Linked DNA regions of Homo sapiens: region 2 is linked to region 1. Evidence: fine-mapped QTL for protein levels in blood plasma. Region 1 holds a variant in brackets. A gene starts in the other region. All regions are shown on their forward strands.

Region 1 (9,816 bases):
TCTCATAAATAAATAAATAAATAAATAAATAAATAAATAAATAAATAAAACGAACAACAAACTCCATCTCTACAAAAACTTTAAAAGTTAGCCAGGCATGGTGCTGCCATGCCTGTAGTCCCAGCTACTTGGGAGTCTGAAAGAGGAGGATCCCTTGAGCCCAGGAGTTTGAGATTACAGTGAGCTGACTATGTCACTGCCTTTTTTTTTTTTTTTTTTTTGAGACAGGGTCTCACTCTGTCACCCAGACTGGAGTGCAGTGACACAACCATGGTTCACGGCAGCCCCGACCTCCCAGGCTCAGGCGATCCTCCCACCGCAGCCTCCCGAGTAGCTGGGACTACAGGTGTGTGCCACCACGCCTGGATAATTTTTTTGTATTTTTTGTAGAGACAAGGTTTTGCCATATTGCCCAGGCTGATCTGGAACTCCTGGACTCAAGCAATCCACCTGCCTCAGCCTCCCAAGATGCAAGGATTACAGGTGTTAAACCACCACACCTAGCTGTGCCACTGCTTTTGCACTCCACCCTGGCAACAGAGAGAACCTGTCTCAAACAACAACAATAACATAAACAAAAACACAACTGCTGGGCACAGTGGCTCATGCCTGTAATCCCAACACTTTGGGAGGCTGAGGCAAGAGGATCGCTTGAGGCCAGGAGGTCAAGAATAGCCTGGGCAACATAGTGAGACCACCTTCATCTCTGCAAAAAAAAAATTTTTTTTAAACTAAACAAAGAAAAAAACCAAGATACTACCACATACCTATTAGAATGGTCAAAATCCGAACACTGACAACAGCAAATGCTTTCAAGGATGTGGAGCAAGAGGAACTTGTTAGTGGGACTGTAAAATGGTCCAGCCACTTTGGAAGGCAGTTTGGTAGTTTTTTACCAAACTAAACATAATCACACTCCTCGGTGTTTATCCAAAGGAGCTGAAAACTTATGTCCACATGAAAACCTATACATGGATGTTTATAGCAGCATTATTCATAATTGCCAAAACTTGGAAGCATCCAAGATGTCCTTTAGTAGGTAAATGAATAAATAAACTCTGGTACATCTGGGCAATAGAATATGATTCAGTGCTAAAAGAAAATGAGCTATTAAGCCATGAAAAGACATGGAGGAAACTCAAATGCATATTGCTAAGTATAATAAACCAATCTAAAAAGGCTACACATTGTATGATTCCAACTTCACGACATTCTGGAAAAGATAAAAGTATGGAGATGGTAAAGAGATCAGTGGTTGCTGGGGGTTATGTGGGAGTGAAGGATGAACAGATAGAGCATAACAGATTTTTAGGACAGCAAAACTACTCTGTATGATACTACAAATGGTATATACATTTGTCCAAACCCACAGACTATACAATAGCAAGAGTGAGCCCTAATGTAAACTACTGACTTTGGGCAATAATGTGTCAATGGGGGATCATCAGTTGTAATAAATGCATCAATCTGGTATACAATGTTGACAATGGGGGAGGTTATAAACATGCAGGGGTAAGGAAGTATATGGGAAATCTGTCTCTTTTGCTCAATTTTTCTGTAAACCTAAAACTGCTCTATAAAATAAAGTCTGTTAAAACAAAAAGAAATGAAGTACTGATACATAGATGATGAACCTTGAAAACATTATGCTAAGAAGCCAGACACATATGGCCATAGAACATATGATTACATTACATGAAATGCCTAGAATTGGCCGGGCATAGTGACTCACGCCTGTAATCCCAGCAATCTGGAAGGCCGAGGCGAGTGAATTACGTGAGGTCAGGAGTTTGAGACCAGCCTGGCCAACATAGTGAAACCCTGTCTCTACTAAAAATACAAAAATTAGCCAGGCGTGGTGGTGCCCACCTGTAATCCCAGCTACTCGGGAGGATGAGGCAGGAGAATCGCTTGAACAAGGAGACAGAGGCTGCAGTGAGCTGAGCTCATGACACTGCACTCCAAGCCTGGGCCACACAGCGAGACTCCATCCATCCATCAATCAATCAATCAATTAAAAATAAAAATGAAATGCCCACAATAGGCAAATCCTTAGAAAGTACATTAGTGATTGTCAGTAGCTGGAAAAGTAGGGAATGAGGAGCTACTGCTAATGGGCAGGGACTCTTTGTAAGGTTATAAAAATGTCCTAAAATAGCATAACTCTGGGAATATACTAAAAACCATTAAACTAGGGCTGAGCGCGGTGACTCATGCTTGTAATCCCAGCACTTTGGGAGGCCAAGACAGGCAGACCACTTGAGGTCTGGAGTTTGAGACCAGCCTGGACCAACACTGCAGATGTTGCAGTGAGCTGAGATTGCGCCACTGCATTCCAGCCTGGGCGACAGAGCGAGACCCTGTCTCAGACAAAAACAAACAAACAAACAAACAAAAACATTAAATTATATAACTTAAATTGGTGAAAGGTATAGTATGTGAATTATATCTTAATAAAGTTGTTTTGGGCCTGATGCAGTGGCTCACACCTGTAATCCGAACACTTTGGGAGGCTGAGGCAGGCGGATCACCTGAGGTCAGGAGATTGAGACCAGCCTGACCAACATGAAGAAACCCTGTCTCTACTAAAAATACAAAAATTAGCCGGGCGTGGTGGCACACGCTTATAATCCCAGCTACTCGGGAGGCTGAGGCAGGAGAATTGCTTGAACCCAGGAGGCGGAGGTTGCGGTAAGCCAAGATCGCGCCATTGCACTCCAGCCTGGGCAACAAGAGTGAAACTCTGTCTCAAAGATGAAAAAAAAAAAATTAAAGCCCAAATAAATTAGAGAAACAAGTTGTTTAAAAAAGAAAAGCCATTCAGACCAGAATAAAGAGTTAGAAAAAAAAAACCCTGAATAAATAAAATAGTAAATAAAAGTATCACTCATGGCCAGGCACAGTGGCTCACACCTGTAATCCCAGCACTTTGGGAGGCCAAGGCAGGCAGATCACCTGAGGTCGGGAGTTCAAGACCAGCTTGGCCAACATGGAGAAACCCTGTATCTACTAAAAATACAAAATTAGCTGGGCATGGTGGCGCATGCCTGTAATCTCAGCTTCTCGGGAGGCTGAGGTAGGAGAATCGCTTGAACCTAGGAGGCAGAGGTTGCTGTGAGCTGAGATTGCGCCACTGCACTCCAGCCTGGGCAAGAACAGCAAAACTCCGTCTCAAAAAAAAAAAAAAAAAAAAAAAAACCCCAACAAACCTATCACTCAGTGTTCCATGATGTGGAATGTAGGTCCTCACTATAAACATGTATATTTAAATCTTGGTTAAAATCTTAGTCTCATCATTATGCAAATTAAAGCCTAACCAAATCCCTAAAATGTATAACTTCCTAATTTGTTTGGATCTGCCCTAACATCCAACAGGGGAGAGTTAAAACAAACCAATTAAACAAAGAGTTGGCTGTGCACTATGGCTCACGCCTGTAATCCCAGCACTTTGGGAGGCCAAGTCAGGAGGATCACTTGAGGCCAGGAGTTCAAGACCAGCCTGGGCAACATAGTGAGATCCAGTCTCTATTTAAATAAGTGAATGATAGATTTAATTTAGGAAAAGACCTGACCTCCAGCTAATGCCCCACTTTTGCAAGAATCAGCTACTATGTCAAGTGTGGTAGGCTTACGTTAACCGTCCTCACTATCAGCAAGCTCCTGCTTTCCCCCACAAAGCACAGCAAAATAACGCAAAAGCAGCTGCAATGTGAAGGCTCCCTTTACCCACCAGGAATCCCAACACAAACAAGAATTCCAGTTAAAGACAGACACTTTCGAGAAACTGAAGCCAGAGATGGGATAGCTTAAATGAAACCTTCCCATGCCCAAGGGTTCAGCAGTTGCCAGGATGCCCAAAACAAGAGGGAGATTCAGCATGGAATCAGAGAGGGTTAGAGCCCAAGCAAAGAGTGACAGCAGCTAGGCCCTCACCTCGGGGATCAGCCGCCTCCTCTTCACGCCGGGGACAGAGTCTAGCAGGCCATCGCTGACCAGCTGCTTTCGTTTGCTGGAGTCCTGCAGGGCAGTGAGGACGCTGTCCACAGAGTGCTTCTCAGAAGTCCTGGAATTCACGGAGCAGTCCAGAGCAGCATCTTCAGCCTCTGTCTCCACTTTCACAGTGATACTTTTTAGAACTGTGTCAGAGAAGAAATAGGGCTCAGTGGGAAAAACCAGGGCTGCTCAGAGATCAGCAGGGTTCTCTGAGCAGCAGGGTGTCTGTGGGCCGCCCTTTGACACCAGTGCTGAGATAATGATGTCTAGTTGTAACAAACCTGAGCTTTCCAACGATGCAATCTTTATCTCACCGCACTAGTGCTGTACAATAAAGCCATGTTCCAAGAGCATTTAGTTCAAATTGGTTTAAACATCTTTTTTTGGGGGGGAAGACAGTGGAAGGAGAGACATAAAATATTATCTTTTTGTGCTTTAAAAAAGTAATTTTTAAAAAGTGACACAAGGTGCTTATAACAAGTGTGTGGGTGGAGGGGGATGGGAACCGGGGAACAAGTGTGTGGGTGGAGGGGACTTTTCACTATATAACTTTGTATATTTTTGGACCATGTGAATGTATGACCTGATCAAAAGTATTCAGTTAAAAACATTTTTCAAAAAGGGCATTTTTTTTTTACCTTCTTCTACATCTTCGGTGAATTCAGTTGAGTTCATCTTCTATTCCGCTAAATAAAAAGACA[A/C]AGACAATGTGTTGACTTATTGCTTGATTTATTTCTTAATTTTCTCTACCCACAGAAAATCCTCTTACCCTCCCAACCCCAGCTCTAGGTAACAGAGCAGCACAGCACTGTGGAAGCTATGTGTCCTCCTAATCTTGTCTGCAGACACTCAGGAGCAGCCAGGCCTTGTGCATCCCTGCTGGGAGCTCTTCTCCAAGACTTTATGTGAGCAGAATGTGTCTTACAGCATCCACTGATAGCCACTTACTGAGCCATGGGAACATTACAAGAACAAATCAACTCTTAAAAAAGACCCCAATTTTAATTATCTCTTTTAAGTCCATGCTTATAAATTCCAGCCACAAAACAAATAGGCTGAAGGATGGGGGCCATGGATCCTGAAATCTTAGGACTTACGGTTGTCAAGAGAACTGTGCTGCCCATGACCTGAAGGTGGCTACTAGCCACACCTGGCTACCAAGGACTCAAAATGTGGCTAGTCCAATGGAGATGTGCTATAAGTGTAAAATACACACCAAATCTCAGACTTAGTAACAGAAATGCAAAATATCTCACTAGTAATTTTTTTTTTTTTAGAGGAAAGGTCTCACTCTTTTCACCCTGGCTGGAGTACAGTAGCACTATCATGGCTCATTGCAGCCTCTGATTCCTGGGCTCTAGCAATCCTCCTGCCTCAGCCTCTAGAATGGCTAGGACTACAGGTACCACATGCCGCCACCCACAGCTAATTAAAAAATTTTTTTGTAGAGATGCGGTTTCACTATGTTGACCAGGCTGCTCTTGAACTCCTCAAGCGATCCTTCCACCTTGGCCTCCCAAAGTGCTGGGATTACACATCTGAGCCACAGTGCCCAGTCCTAATAATTGCTTTATATTGATTACATGTTGAAATGATAATATTTTGGACTTACTGGGCTAAATACAATACTTTATTTCATTTATTTGTTTATGAAACGGAATCTTGCTTTGTCACCAGGCTGGAGTGCAGTGGCGCAATCTTGGCTCACTGCAACCTCCGCCTCCTGGGTTCAAGTGATTCTCCTGCCTCTGCCTCCAAGTGATTCTCCTGCCTCTGCCTCCCGAGTAGCTGGGACTACAGGCATAAGCCACCACTCCCGGCTAATTTTTTGTATTTTTAGTAGAGACAGGGTTTCATCGTGTTAGCCAGGATGGTCTCGATCTCCTGACCTCATGATCCGCCCACCTCAGCCTCCCAAAGTGCTGGGATTAGAGGTGTGAGCCATTGTGCCCAGCCTAAGCTTCATTAGAAAGGTGGGCAGTGCTCTGTTCCAGGCTGCAGGGTCTGAAGCAAAACCTGCCTGCCTCAGCTGGAATGGAACTGACACCATGAGGCAAAGCACCACTAAAACAAAACAAACAAAATTACCACTAAGTCTCTGATATCTCCGAATACCATGACAGCATGTACATAAATAGTACAAGATACAAAGGTAGTAACATTTGGAGAATATACATTGCAATCTTTAATGTTGACACTTGGGAGTTGTGATCCCCACAACTGATTAAGCTGACTACAAACACAGAGTTCTCATTTTGGTTGAGGATGAGTGGAGAGCAGGACCAAGAAGTATCTCTTAAGAAATTTCTGGCCGGGAATGGTGGCTCGTGCCTGTAATCCCAGCACTTTGGGAGGCTGGGGTGGGCGAATCACCTGGGGTCAGAAGTTCAACACCAGCCTGGCCAACATGGTGAAACCCCATCTGTACTAAAAATACAAAAATTAGCTGGGCATGGTGGCACACGCCTATAGTCCCAGCTACTTGGGAGACTGAGGCAGGAGAACTGCTTGAACCCGGGAGGCAGAGGTTGCAGTGAGCCAAGATCACACCACTATACCCCAGCCTGGGTGACAGAGTGAGACTCTGTCTCAAAAAAAAAGAAAGAAACTCTGTAAGCATGAAGCCATCTAAAATGTTCAGTGAACCATTCAAGGAGTAGCCACAGAATGGTGTGTGTTTGACATACAGTACCTGTTTTAGACAGGTGAATGGGGTGGGGATGGCAGCAAGAGGGAGAGTGTGTCTGGGTGATCCATGAGCACAATCATCACTGCAAAGGTTACTAATAATGGCAACACATACAGTGCTTATGATGTGAAGCACTATTTTTAGTTCAAGAACAGTGCACAATAGTGCAAGACAGGCACAATTCTTTTCATCCCTGTATTGCTAATTTTCAGAGGAATGAAAACCAAAATGAGATTTGAAACTGAAAATAATTCCTACTCACCAAGCCATCTCCTACCTGAAAAAACATTACACACAGGGTGATATTGACAGAAAACAAATAATAAGTCAACTTCAAGGGTCCGAGAACTATTTTACCAGAGTCAAATTTTAGCAACTCCTTCCACTGTATTTCAAGGAACTACACCTCACTTTGGATCGCCATCATCTGAGCTGGGTGTCTCTGAGTGGCTAGAAGGGCTGGACAATGCCAGGCAGAAATTCAAGACCGGATTCCCAGCCTGGTAGGAGGCCTCTCAAGGAAACACACTGCAGGTCACCTGAATGCCCCTGCCCTTGGAAACTGCCATGGTCACATAACCCATTCCTGCCAATCAAGGGGAGTTCTGAGATGCAGAACAGATGGGGCAAAACGATGGCTGTCAGAGGCGGACATACTTTACAAAACAAATTACATTTGGCAGAGAAAAGGCAGAGAGGGAGGAGACAGCGGTTGGTTTATTTGGGGAGGAAAAGGGTCATGGTGAAAGAAAAATTGCAAAGAGTCAAAGATTCTGGTAAGTGGAAAGCACTAAAAGGATGGGCAAATACTAGAACAAAACAAAACAGGCGTCGATGAGAGAACACAGCAGACAGGGCCATGGGTGGTGAGAAGGGCAGTCTATTTATCTGCCATTATATTCGCCCAACCATGTGTCTCTGGCAGGCCCATCACATAGGGAGCAGTGCAGGGCTGGAGTCCAGGCTGCCACATGGAGCCTGCCGGGAATGTGGCTTGGTGAGCAGAAAACCTATTTTCTGATTTTTTATTTTTCCTTGTTTCCAGTGGGGTTGGAAGGAGGCTATTTTCTGAACCACCACCATGTGACCCTACAGCAGGCAATTTGGCCTCTGAATTTTGAGCCCCTATAAAGTGATGAAGGAAGAGCACACATCTCAGCCACCTGCAGTGGGCAGAAACCCCAGAGGGCTCATGCAGCTGAGGTGGGAGGAAGGGGTGCTGGTGCGGCTGCCTGGGCATTCAAGACACCGAGTGCTTGTGCTTTGGAAAACACTTCCGTGTCCATTTATAGACTAGTGACAGATGCTAGGTTAGCCCAGAAGTAGCCCAGAACACAGCATGGTGGGCCCCTTCCCTCCGGGCCAGCAAATCAGCTTCACTCATTAAGAAGCTGGGGAATCTCCCATTTGCAAGGCCTGGAAACCTCGCGCCTGCCCCTGGCTTGCGCAGTGGGGAGTGAGGTGAGCATCCCCTGTAACATCTGCAGCCCACCAACTTCACACCAGGCACTGGGCTGGCCACTGCATGTGTGCCTGTGCCTCACCCTGAGCTATTTTAGTTCCAATTTCAACAAATAGAGAAACCCAGGACAGGTAACTCCTCCAGTGTCACATCACTGAGTGGCAGAACCTGGCTTCAAATCGAGTCTTTCTGTGCCTTCCCTCAGCCAGCCAGGGAGGAAATAATAGAGTCTTCATTCTTTTGTTAAGCTTCTTCTGATGAACCATGGGCCTGTTTCCAAATTTGAGTCCCTCTGTCCAACAGCACCAGGAAACCACATCTCCTTCTGCCTCCATTAGCACTCTGGAAAGTCAGTCTGCTCCGTGCGTAGAAACAGACTCCACCCCACAATACAGAAAAGCTTCTACAAGAGAGATGTGTAGGCCACTCCCTGCATCCCCAGCTGGCGCAGGGACAGCACACCAACAATGTCACAGCTGGGCAGAAAGGGGATGGGGAGCACACTGCTACCTCCATTTCCTGGTCACCTGCCCAGATGAGGGTCACAAGCTCTGCTCCTCCTGGGTGGACACCCAGCACCCAGATGCCTAGCATGCCACAGACATTCCTCTCGCCTACCTGACTATAGGCTACGTAGGCGCTGCCACAACTACCCAACCACCACAGCACCCACCTCCTAAAGGCTGCTGTGAGCATTCCCTTTGCCTCCTGGACTCTGGAGAACTTCTCATTCTGACATTCTCTCATTTTCAAAATGTTCTCATGCCTCCCACCATAAACCTCAAATTATGGGACAGTCAACACATCCACACGTTCCCCAAAATCAACTTTCTCCCCAAGGGATGTCTGTTCTATGTCCCTCAGACAGCTGAGCTAAGCCTAGGAAAAAAGAAAAAGAAAAAAGAGGCCAGGCACGGTGGCACACGCCTGTAATCCCAGGACTTTGGGAGGCCAAGGCGGGCGGATCACCTGAGGATGGGAGTTGGAGACCAGCCTGACCAACATGCAGAAACCCCATCTCTACTAAAAATACAAAATTAGCTGGGCATGGTGGCGCGTGCCTGTAATCCCAGCTACTCAGGAGGCTGAGGCAGGAGAATCGCTTGAATCCGGGAGGCGGAGGTTGTGAGGAGCCGAGATCGCGCCATTCAACGCCAGGCTAGGCAACAAGAGCGAAACTCCGTCTCAAAAAAAAAAAAAAGAAAGAAAGAAAGAAAGAAAGAAAGAAAAAACAAAGAAAAAAGAGAAGGCCGGGCGTGGTAGCTCACACCTGTAACCCCAGCACTTTGGAGGCGGGCAGATCACGAGGTCAGGAGATGGAGACCATCCTGGCTAACACGGTGAAACCCCATCTCTACTAAAAAAAATACAAAAAAAAATTAGCCAGGCGTGGTGGCGGGCGCCCATAGTCCCAGCTACTCGGGAGGCTGAGGCAGGAGAATGGCATGAACCCAGGAGGCAGAGCCTGCAGTGAGCCGAGATCGCGCCACTGCACTCCAGCCTGGGCGACAGAGCGAGACTCCGTCTCAAAAAAAAAAAAAAAAAAAGGAAGAACCACATCACAAAGAGATAGGCTGGAAAGAGTTACACACTACAGGACACTTCATCTTTTTAGTGTTCATTTTAAGAGGGAAGATACATAATGTGGCTTTTCCCCATTTTTTACCAGGTA
Region 2 (9,816 bases), not on the chromosome of region 1:
GGGTGGGGCCCAGTGAGGGCACCTGGGGGAGGTGCGCAGAGTGCAGTGGGCCTGCCAGGGAGGGGAAAGGCCTGCCCATTGGGGGCTGAGGGTGGGCAGAAGCCAGGCAGGACCCAGTAGAACAGAGGGTGGAGAACAGTGAGGGTCCCAGAGAGAGTGAGGCTGGGTCCCAGTTGACCCCAGACCCTGCCCCGTCCAACCTGACACAACCTCCCCAGTTGTACCTTCTCCCAGCTCTCATGTGCCCAGCCTGACCTCTCCTGTCAGGTAAACAAGCCGCTAAGAGGACTTGAGCTGCTCCTTCCAGAACAGGGTGCAGCCCCAGGCCCCAGACAGGACTCCGGGGGGCACAGGGCAGGCTCTTTCAGTATGTGGTGAGGACAGACAGGATGGGTGTCCCGGGCCTGAGAGCCAGACAGCTCCTGGAACCCGCCCCCACCTCCCCGCAGGGTTCTCACAGCCCTCGTGCTGGATGGAGAAGCCCAGGCTGAGAAAGCAGGGACAGGACACCCCCAGAGCTTCATGGCCTGTGGTGCCTGAGCATGGCCTGGCCTGCCCGGCCTCACAGGACTCCGGACCCCACACACCACATGTCCTCGCCGGACACCTGTGCCCACGAGCTCTGCCTCGGGCCCTAGTGGAACCCCTGGCCTGTGTGGACTCCCAGAGGCACCTCCAGGACTTACCCTGGGACTGTACCCCCTGGCCTGGGGGACAAGGGTGGTGCCGGCAGGTCGTGCAGCAAGGGTCTCCGCAGTGGAATTCAGGCTGGACACACATGCAGTCCCACTCGGAACAGCACTCCTCGCCTGGGCAGGAGACAGGCCAGCCCCCCAGCAGCTGGGCTGAGGCCCCCTCCTCCCCAGGCCTCCCCTCGGCCCTCCAGGGGAGTGAGGTTGTCCGTTCTCCACCCACAGTTGGCTCCAGGGAGCAGAGGGCTCCTGGCTGGGAGTCTGGACCCTGGGTTTATCCAGCTGTCTCTTTCTCCTGGGGCCATGTGGCCTGGCTACTCCCCCTTTGCGCCCCACAGCTGCCCCTGCCCAGGTGCTAACTCCATATGCAACCAGGAGCTGCCCCTGCAGGACCCAGGGGTGGCCCCCAACAGTGCACAGTCCCCTGGAGGCCCGTCGACACCTCAGAGGCCGCCTGCCTGGTGTCTGGGCGCTGCTGTCCCCACCACCAGCCACACTGGGCCTCCGGACAGAGCCTCCCTTCCCAACCCACAGGCCCTGGAGGAAGAAGCTCTGGGGTGACTTCCCTGCCAGCTTCCTCTCCAGACCAGCCGTGTCAGCTGAACCCTCATCCCCAGGTGCAGGTCAGAGGCAGGCAGCAGGCCAGACGGTGGTGCAGGGGGGCCCTCAACTGGGCAGGAGGGGGCTGGGCGATGGCCAAGGGCTCACGACCCGCCCAGCAGGACCTGGAACAGCCGTCCTCCACCTCCAGACCCCAGACCCCTCTTGAGGGCGCTCCCACCTGGCTCACCCCTGCTCCCGGCCGGGGCCACTGGCTGGAGCTGGCACACCTCCGCCTCCCTCTGGGATCCTGCCTCCCTCCGGAAGGCTCCCGCTGCTGGCGGCTCTGTGCCCACCCTCCTTAGACCTCAGCAACGCCGGTCTGAGCACGGGAAGGGGGGCGCCCACCCATCCCGGCTTCCGCGGGACGCCTTGGCCGGTCCGCGTTAAGTAAACGCGGTTTACTTACCCGGGTAATCGCGGCAGCAGCGCGTCGTGTGAACCCGGCAGCAGCGCGCGTCCGTTCCCGTCCCAAGCAGGAGGCGCCCAGGGCCGCACCCGGGACCCCCGGTGGGGCGCTGACCCAGGCTGAGCGCGCACAGCAGCGCCAGGCCGCACAGGGCCCGAAACGCGCCCATCGCCCCGTGCTGTGCCATGCTCGGGTTTCAAGAGCCCACAGCCAGTTGGACACGCCCCGTCCCCGTCCTCACCCGCCCTGCCCGGAGGTGGCTGGGACCGTTCATGACCTGAGAATCCCGACCCAGGTGAAGTGCGTGTGAGGAGGGGGTGTAGACACTGCGGACACAGCCCGGTCCCCCGCAGGTCGCCGGCAGGGGCGGGGAAACCAGGCTGGCGGGGATCAGAAAGGTTTTCTATGCAAAGTCTGCGGCCACATTGGTGTCCCCAGTGCAGGGGGCGGCGTTTATAGCACCTTGTCCCATGGGGGCCCCTTGGAGGGCGGGGGTCAGCCAATCACTCCTCCATCCCACTGCCTCCGGGTGGTATCTGCGAGTCCCCGAGAGGTCTCCACAAATTCTGGCCACCCCCAGAGAGCCTCAACCATGGAGCCCCGTGCTGGGGAACCCCACAGAATGGGGACAGGGACCCCTCGGCTCAGCACACCCCACCTGGCTGGCTTCAGGTGTGAAACTCACCATGGGCTGCAGGCCTGTGGGCTCCCCTCCCCCTTGCTTGCAGCTCTCCAGGACCCCCCTCAGGCCAACCTGGGAAGTTCCCCGGGGCTTGGGAGGGGCACCAGGAGGAGCTGGTGGGGAGACGAGAGGGTGCTGGCGCCTCCTCGGGACAGTGTCAGCCGCCCCCGCGGGCACCCAGGGCCCGGTCTCTCAGAGCCACCTTCATCCGTCACACCAGACAGATCCAGGTCCCGGAGGGAGTTGAGGAGGAGCCCCTCGCAGAGCTCTTGGGAGACTGTCCTATGTCTTTCTGAGCCTCAGTTTCCCCTGTGGGCACCGAGGGGTTCTGGGACCCTGCCTCCACCAGGAAGCCTCCCTGGATTGCCCAGCCCTGCTTCTGCGCCGTCCAGCACAGGTGGAGACCCCCATGAATGCTGGGGGTGGGGGCTCTCGGGAACGTGAGCGTGGATGTGGTTCAACACCCTTTTGAGACCTGCAGCCACCGCCTCACCCCGTAAGGCGGTTCCTCCTTTTCCAAGGTAAATGACAGGAATTAGCTGTTTGTGACACCCCGGAGTTCTCAAATCCAAGATGTAGGAGCCTGCCTTGGAGAGGCAGCCCTCAGACACTGCAGAGAAGGAAGGGGTCTCTGCAGCTCCAGGCCGCCCCGACGCTCGGAAGGAAAGGGGTGGGGCCAGCTGGGCCTGGGGGCCTTTGAGAGGCCTGGAGATCTTCAGCCCCGAGGCTGGGAGGGGGTCTGGGCCCCTGGATAGAAAGAGGCGCCATCAGTGGCTCACGCCCGTAATCCCAGCATTTTGGGAGGCCGAGGTGGGCCTCGGATCACCTGAGGTCAGGGGTTCGAGACCAGCCTGACCCACATGGAGAAAGCCCGTCTCTACTAAAAATACAAAAAAAATTAGCCAGGCGTGGTGGCGCACGCCTGTAATCCCAGCTACTCGGGAGGCTGAGGCAGGAGAATTGCTTGAACCTGGGAGGCAGAGGTTGCGGCGAACCAAGATGGCACCATTGCACTCCAGCCTGGGTGACAGAGCGAGACTCCATCACAAAAAATAAAGAATGCTCATCAGACCACACGGTGTGAGTCATCCATCTAGAGGCAGGGACAGAGTTAGAGGAGCGAGCAGTTTATGGGGCCAAGTGGGAGGCGGCCAGCGGGCAGAGGAGCCCCTCCCCCCCGCCCCGTGGCGCAGCTGACACTTTGAACAGCCGGAGAGCAGCTTGCCACACAGGGTGGTCCCCGGAGGGGCTGCAGGGGTGTGACGTCCACCCTCCCATCCCTCTCGCCGCAGAAGGCCCCTCCCCGGCTCCCCGTGACTCCTATCCTTGGGCTGCGAGGCTGGAGGTGACTTGTTCATCTTATTGAGCAGCTCACCGGTGACACAAATGACGGGGCATTCACACAGCAGAGCAGCCCACGGGCCGGGCGAGGGACAGCCCTTGCGTACGTCCAGAAGGGCAGCTGTGAGGCCCCACGGGGAGGGTGCAGATGGGCACTGAGCCAGAGTTCAGGCAGGGCCTTCGGCACAGATGGCACAGGAGTTGCCAGCAGAGATGGCGTCAGGCGAGGGGGCGGGGAGGGTGAGCATGGAGACCAAGAGGAGGTGGCCCCGTGTCCATCTGGGGGTGCGGCAAGGGGTCCTGCTGGGGAATAAGTCCCACGGGGCCTGGGGGGTGCTGTGCCCAGAGGGGAGGAGACAGGAAGCGATGGGTATGGGCGCCAGGTTTGGGGAGGAGGCCCCTTTCCCATAGCCGTCGACCTGCGGGCCCCACAGGATCTGGCCGCTCCAGTCCCGGCCACCTGACCCCTTCCCCCACCCACCCGCCATCCTGCCTGGAGGTCTGGCCTCGCCTGCCCCACGGGGCGGGGGGCGGGGGGCTCTCAGAGGCGCGGCCCCAACCCTGTGCAGGGCCTGCAGGCTGAACCGTGTGCAGGAACCCGGGGAACTCGGTGAAGGTGCTGGATGGGGGACAGGACGGCCTCTGACTTCCCTATGCTGCGGGGGGGGAGGCTTGTGGTTAGCAGAGAGTGGGTGGAAGACAGAGGTTTGAGGAGAGAGAGACCCAGGGGAGAAAACCAGCTGCAGAGGCAGGAGGGGTCCAGGGCAGCCCGAGGCCAGAGATGGGCGTCTTCCTTACAGCCACCTGTGGTCCCGGCACCTTGGGCTGTTGTGAGTGGCGCGTGGCGCTCCCACTGTGCACCCCCGGGGCCGGTTCCCCACTTCCACGACACCGGCAGGGGGGAGCCATCCGCCAGGCACAGGAGGCCTGGACAGCCGTGGGCAGCGTGCGCTGTTGGAGGACGCAGGGAGAGGGAAGGCTGGCCCAGGGACGCTGTGTGGGGCAGCGGGTGCAGCTGCGGGGCTGGGCCACACCAGCCACGGTAGCCGGAGTGTCCAGGCTGTGCCAGGCCCTCAGCAAAACCTTCCATGAGGCTTCATGTGTTTCTTCTTAAGTAATTTTTTTAAATTTCTTTTTTTTTTTCCAGTCACGTCTCACTGCAGCCTCCATCTCTTGGGCTCAAGTGATCCTCCCACCTCGGCCTCCCAAGTAGCCGGGACCACAGGCATGCACCACCACACCCGGCTGATTTTTTCTATTTTTCATAGAAAAGGGTCTTGCCATGTTACCCAGGCGGGTCTCAAACTCCTGAGCTCAGACGATCGTCTGGCCTCAGCCTCCCAAAGTGCTAGGATTCTAGGCGTGAGCCACCGTGACCGGCCTCGGCTGTGTGTTTCTTGCTCATGAGTGCAGTGAGGGCCAGGCGTGGTGGCTCACACCTGGAATCGCAGTACTCCAGGGCACCGAGGCAGGTGGATCACCTGAGGTCAGGAGTTCAAGACCAGCTTAGCCAACATGGTGAAACCCTGTCTCTAATAAAATACAAAAATTAGCCGGGTGTGGTGCTGGGCGCCTGTAGTCCCAGCTACTTGGGAGGCTGAGGCAGGAGAATGGCGTGAACCCGGGAGGCAGAGGTTGGTGAGCTGAGATCACACCACTGCACTCCAGCCTGGGTGACACAGCAAGACTCCGGCAAAAAAAAAAAAAGAAAGAAAAAACAAGTGCAGTGAGACGTCTTAGCCCTCGGGAGTGTTTCTCTTCAGCCCCTGACACCATGGAGGCGAACAGGCACCTCCGCCTCCCGAGGGACACAGATGTCGCTTAGACGCCCGGGGTGTCTTCCCTGCGGGAAGCCTGCAGGGCTGCTCCCGCCTTGTTCCCGAGCTGTGGCCTCGGGCGTGACTGGCGCTCGGGAGCAGGCTCTGTGCTGCTCGAAGGATACCCCACTCCCAGACACCAGCTTGAGAAGATTCCCGCACGGCCGGGGACGGCCCCAGGGCCTTGGGAGCGTCTGTGGACACCTGTGGTGTGGGCCGAGGAGCTGGGAGCTCATCTGAACACGCCAGCACTCGCGCATCCACGCTGCTGGCGGATGCCTGGGTTTCTCCACTGTGGGGCCACGTTACATGAAGTCGCTGTGGTCATTCTCATTCAGATCCCAGGACTCTTAAGTGCGCAGGAGTGGGACGGCCGGGGCCCAGGGTGGACAGAAAGTTGGCTCAAGCAGAAACTGTGGTTTCCAAGGTGACTGTCCCCCTGGACACCTATGGCAGGGACATAGGGGCCGTGTGGGCCCTTTGCAGGGACTCCTCGGGGTGCTCAGGGGCCCTGGGACCCCCTTCCAGGTGCAGCAAGGGGTGGGCGTAGGTGTGGAGGGGAAGAGGGGCAGGTCTCTACACTCCTCCTCCAAGGACACAGAGCCCCGGGGGTCAGCCACTCCCAAGCTCCTTGGGCAACCCGGGGCTCAGGGGCCAGCTGCCCTTGTCAGCGCCTGGCCAGGAACCTCCACCCCAGGCAGCCTTGGGCCTGAGCTTTCCCAGTCTCTCCCCCCGCTCCCCACTCAATCTGGAACTCGCACCCAGGGACCAACCTCCAGGGTCCCACTTGACCCCGCTACCCTCACCTCCACCCTGGCCCAAGACCCCTCTCCAGCCACAGGTTGGCACAGCCCAAGTCTCCCAAGACCCCTCTCCAGCCACAGGTTGGCACGGCCCAAGTCTCCCAAGACCCCTTTCCAGCCACAGGTTGGCACGGCCCAAGTCTCCCAAGACCCCTCTCCAGCCAGAGGCGGGCACGGCCCAAGCCTCCCAAGACCCCTGTCCAGCCAGAGGCGGGCACGGCCCAAGCCTCCCAAGACCCCTCTCCAGTCAGAGGCGGGCACGGCCCAAGCCTCCATGCCACAGGTGTGCAGCCCACAGTGCCGGTCGGAGACTCCCGTCTGCCAAGGTTTTTATTGTGGTCCCGCGGGGCAGGAGGTATGCATGGCATACGTAAGCAGAGAGCCGGAGGCAGCCATCGGCACCTAGAACGGTGCAGAGTTGGCCCAGGAGCGTGGCGGGGCAGGCGGCCTGCACCTGCCCTGCTCGCCCAGCAGACCCTCCGGGCTCCAGCCTGGCGGGGCCCAGCGTCCACCTTGGTGGGCCCAGGTCAGATCTTGGCCAGGGTGGAGTGGGCGTCGGCCTGCTCCTCTTGGATGGGGGTCCGGAAACTGCCTCCCCCTGGGGAGGAAAAAAGGAGAGATTGGTGGGTGGGCCTCACCCGCCAGGAGCAGTGCGGCAGGGCCATGAGGCACTCACCAGGGGGCTTGTGGGCATCGGGGGGCAGCCTCTGGTCCCTCCGGAGCAGGTACAGGGCCAGCAGGATGGCCAGGGGGCCCAGCAGCCCCAGCACCAGGCCCAGGCCCAGGATGGCGGCAACCGCACGGCCTGCAGGAAGGGGTCTGCTGGGTGGGGTCCACAGGAGGGGCCCCCATGCCGCCCTCCCCTTCTCCTATTCGGGTTGGGGGCCCCGCTGGGCTGGGCCAGGCGCCCTTACCCCCGGGGACCTCCACGGGCCGGGTGGAGGGTCCCTGTGAGGTTCTGGGCCAGGCTTCAGTGGGCTGGACAGTGATGGGCCTGGCCGGGGGGCCCTGGGTCTCCTGGGGCTGCGTGGCTGGGGGGTCCCTGTCCTCACAGATTGCGTCCGAGCTATTGCTGGCCGGCTGCAGGGTGTGCTTCCCAGCCAAGGTGCAGCTGTTGGGGAACAGGAGGTGTTGCTCAGGCCAGAAACCCCCTGGGACCCGGGAGATGCGGTGGGGATAACAGGGTCCACGCTGGCCAGCCACAGGCAGCATCTACCACAGACACCAGGCCAGTGACAGCCAAGGACGCTGCCCAGCCCCACGTGCCCCCCACAGGGGCCTCCAAGGCCACACACCCTTCTCCCACATCTACACCCCCCACCAGCACCTCCCTGTCCTGTGCCCCCAGGGCCTCCCAGCTGCGGAGGGTGAGGGTCCCACACACCCAGCTCCACCCACAGGGAAAGGCTGCCCCCAGGCAGCAGCTTCCTGCTCCCCAACCAGGTCCAGCCACATAGCCAGGCCCCCAGGGCCACCAGCACCTCCCCTTCCCCCAAAACTGCCCCCACCCCACCTGCCCCCCCAGCCCCTCCCAGCTCCCCAGCTCCTCCGCCCTCCTAACCACCCCAACCCCCCCCCAGCCCCTCCCAGCCCCTGGCCAGGCCCCTCACTTGGTCCAGGGCTTGCAGGCCTGGTTGTCGCCTGGGGAGAAGTGCCCTGGAGGGCAGGGGGCACAGTCTGCAACAAAGATAGGGTGGTCAGGGGCTGCCCACAGGCCCCGGGTGCTGGGGACATGGGGCAGAGCCTGTGGGGCAGGCACTTGCCCCCCATGGCTGGGTGGTGGGTTTGGCCTCTGGAAGCCCTCCCTGCCCACATCCCACCCGTGGGCCCTGACCCGGGAGCTCGGTCTTGAGGATGCCAGAGGAGGCACCGGTGGGGCCAGGTCCCTGCGGCCCACGGCCCATCTGCGTCACAGACAGCCGCTATGCACACCCCCAACCGCCGGCCGCAGCCACCGAGCTCACCAACTCCAGGCTTGTAGCTGTCCAGGGGCTGGGTGCCCGCCCGGCAGCGGCAGACTGTGTCCTGTGTGGCCGTGCACAGCTGCTTCCGCTCACTCCCACTTCCTGAGCAGGGGCCGGATGGGGGGGTGGTCAGGTGGGGGCTGTGGACAGGGTCCTCAGGAAGCGTGGGCACTGGAGGACAGGTTGGCCTCCCCACCACACAGAGGGCCGTGGGCAGGGGTCTGCGGCCTCCCCTGAGACTTGGAGCCCCTGCAGCCCCCGAGGCTCCTGGGCCCTCCCTTCCTGGCCACAACCTGGGGCTGGTTCCGTGGCAGCCCCAGCCACCCTTCCCTACCCCTCCACCGCCTCCAGCCGCCAGCCCCGCCTGCGGCAGGGTCTCCATGGCCCAACCCCCCAGCCTCACTGCTCAGGCCAGCAAGGCCAGGCCACATGGCCAGCGTGGTCTCCCCGACTCCACGTGGCCTGGGCCGAGTCTGGGCCCCCGGAGGGAGAGGGGGTGCCCCTGGGAGACGCCTCAGCTCCTCGAAGGACCCCTGTGGCGGAGCAGACCCCGCTGTGGTTTGAGGTTCGTTTCTGCGGCTGTGGGAGCCCCATGCTGCTGCGTGGGAATGTGGGTGCCAGGCTGCCGCCCCCTGTGCTGGGTGGGGCTGTGGGGCCAGGTGGGAGCTCACTGAGGTTACACCACGTGCAGGGCTTGCACGGCTTGGAGCTGACCACGTCGTTGTAGAAGCCCGGCCCGCACGGACGGCACACCGTGTTCTGGGAGCGGCTGCAGCGGCTCACCATCCCGTTGCCTGCAGCAGAGGCCGGCGTCAGGCAGCGGTCAGGCCCCAGGCTTGCGCCCGTGGACCCCCCCAGGCGGCTCCTCTGCCAGGCTTGGCCGGCCCCTCACCCGCCCCCTCCCCAGGACCAGCCTCCTGGCTGGCCCATCCCTGCCCCAGCCCCCAGTCCCTGGAGTGCCCGTGCGTGGCGACCCCTCCTGAGGCCTCACCTGGCCTGCACTCGTGGCAGCACCGGTCGTTGCTGGGGTAGGTGTCCCCGACACAGTGGAGCCCCGTCACGGTGCTCAGCCCCAGGCCCAGGAGGAGCAGAGCCGCACACGGCCCGCGGCCCAGCCGCCGAGCCCCCACGCACATCCTCGTCTCTGCTGTCGCCAGAGTCTGGGTTTTCCTTGCGGGGTGTGGCTATAAGGACTGTGGAGGAGGGGAGGGGAGAGGGGAGGAGGGCAGAGGAGGCGGGAGGAGGAAGGTGGCAGGCCGGGGACCCTGGCTGTGGGCTGGGCACAAAGGCGGGGTCTGGGCACCCCCAGCATTGGCTTATTCTGCCTTCTGACCTCTTCTGCCCAAGACCACCGTGTTCAGACCCCAGGGCACAGTAGGGCCTGGCCTGCGGCTCGACCCTCAGCAAAAAGGTCCATGGAGCACGTGGGTAAACTGAGGCAGCACTGAGTCAGGAGAGGCAACTCCTCAGTCTGGACCTTCAGGGCTGTGGCACTGCTGAAGCATGGT

Alleles and levels. Positions count from the first base shown, and alleles are read on the strand shown. Strength reflects both the effect of a copy and how common the allele is.
For the plasma level of the protein whose gene starts at base 9,470 in region 2, allele A in region 1 goes with a lower level than allele C (weak association).

The links. A credible set is the group of variants that fine-mapping cannot tell apart. PIP is the posterior inclusion probability: the model's chance that the variant is causal. Protein levels are from antibody-based Olink assays in UK Biobank. Linkage for the fine-mapping came from a reference panel and not from the study's own genotypes, which makes the PIPs less certain.
Region 2: TNFRSF4 starts here. The variant in region 1 is the best candidate, but not a certain one, in a credible set for the plasma level of the TNFRSF4 protein (UK Biobank, PIP 0.86).

The regions. Positions count from the first base shown.
Region 1 is chr6:107,094,618-107,104,433 of GRCh38, forward strand. It overlaps BEND3 (BEN domain containing 3), which reads right to left. Exons shown (of 4, transcript NM_001367314.1): 2 at 4,632-4,679; 3 at 3,934-4,136. The coding sequence starts at 4,668. Among named protein-coding and RNA genes, the nearest start is that of BEND3, 16 kb to the right of the region's middle. The variant A/C (reference allele first, on the strand shown) is at 4,695.
Region 2 is chr1:1,204,684-1,214,499 of GRCh38, forward strand. TNFRSF4 (TNF receptor superfamily member 4) reads right to left here and starts at 9,470. Exons shown (of 7, transcript NM_003327.4): 1 at 9,300-9,470; 2 at 8,980-9,102; 3 at 8,309-8,410; 4 at 7,955-8,021; 5 at 7,259-7,455; 6 at 7,021-7,149; 7 at 6,657-6,942. The coding sequence starts at 9,444. The coding sequence ends at 6,872. TNFRSF18 (TNF receptor superfamily member 18) reads right to left here and starts at 1,909. Exons shown (of 5, transcript NM_004195.3): 1 at 1,702-1,909; 2 at 687-809. The coding sequence starts at 1,888. RefSeq lists silencers at 492-692, 3,565-3,654, 4,235-4,344, 8,548-8,597 and an enhancer at 3,489-4,368.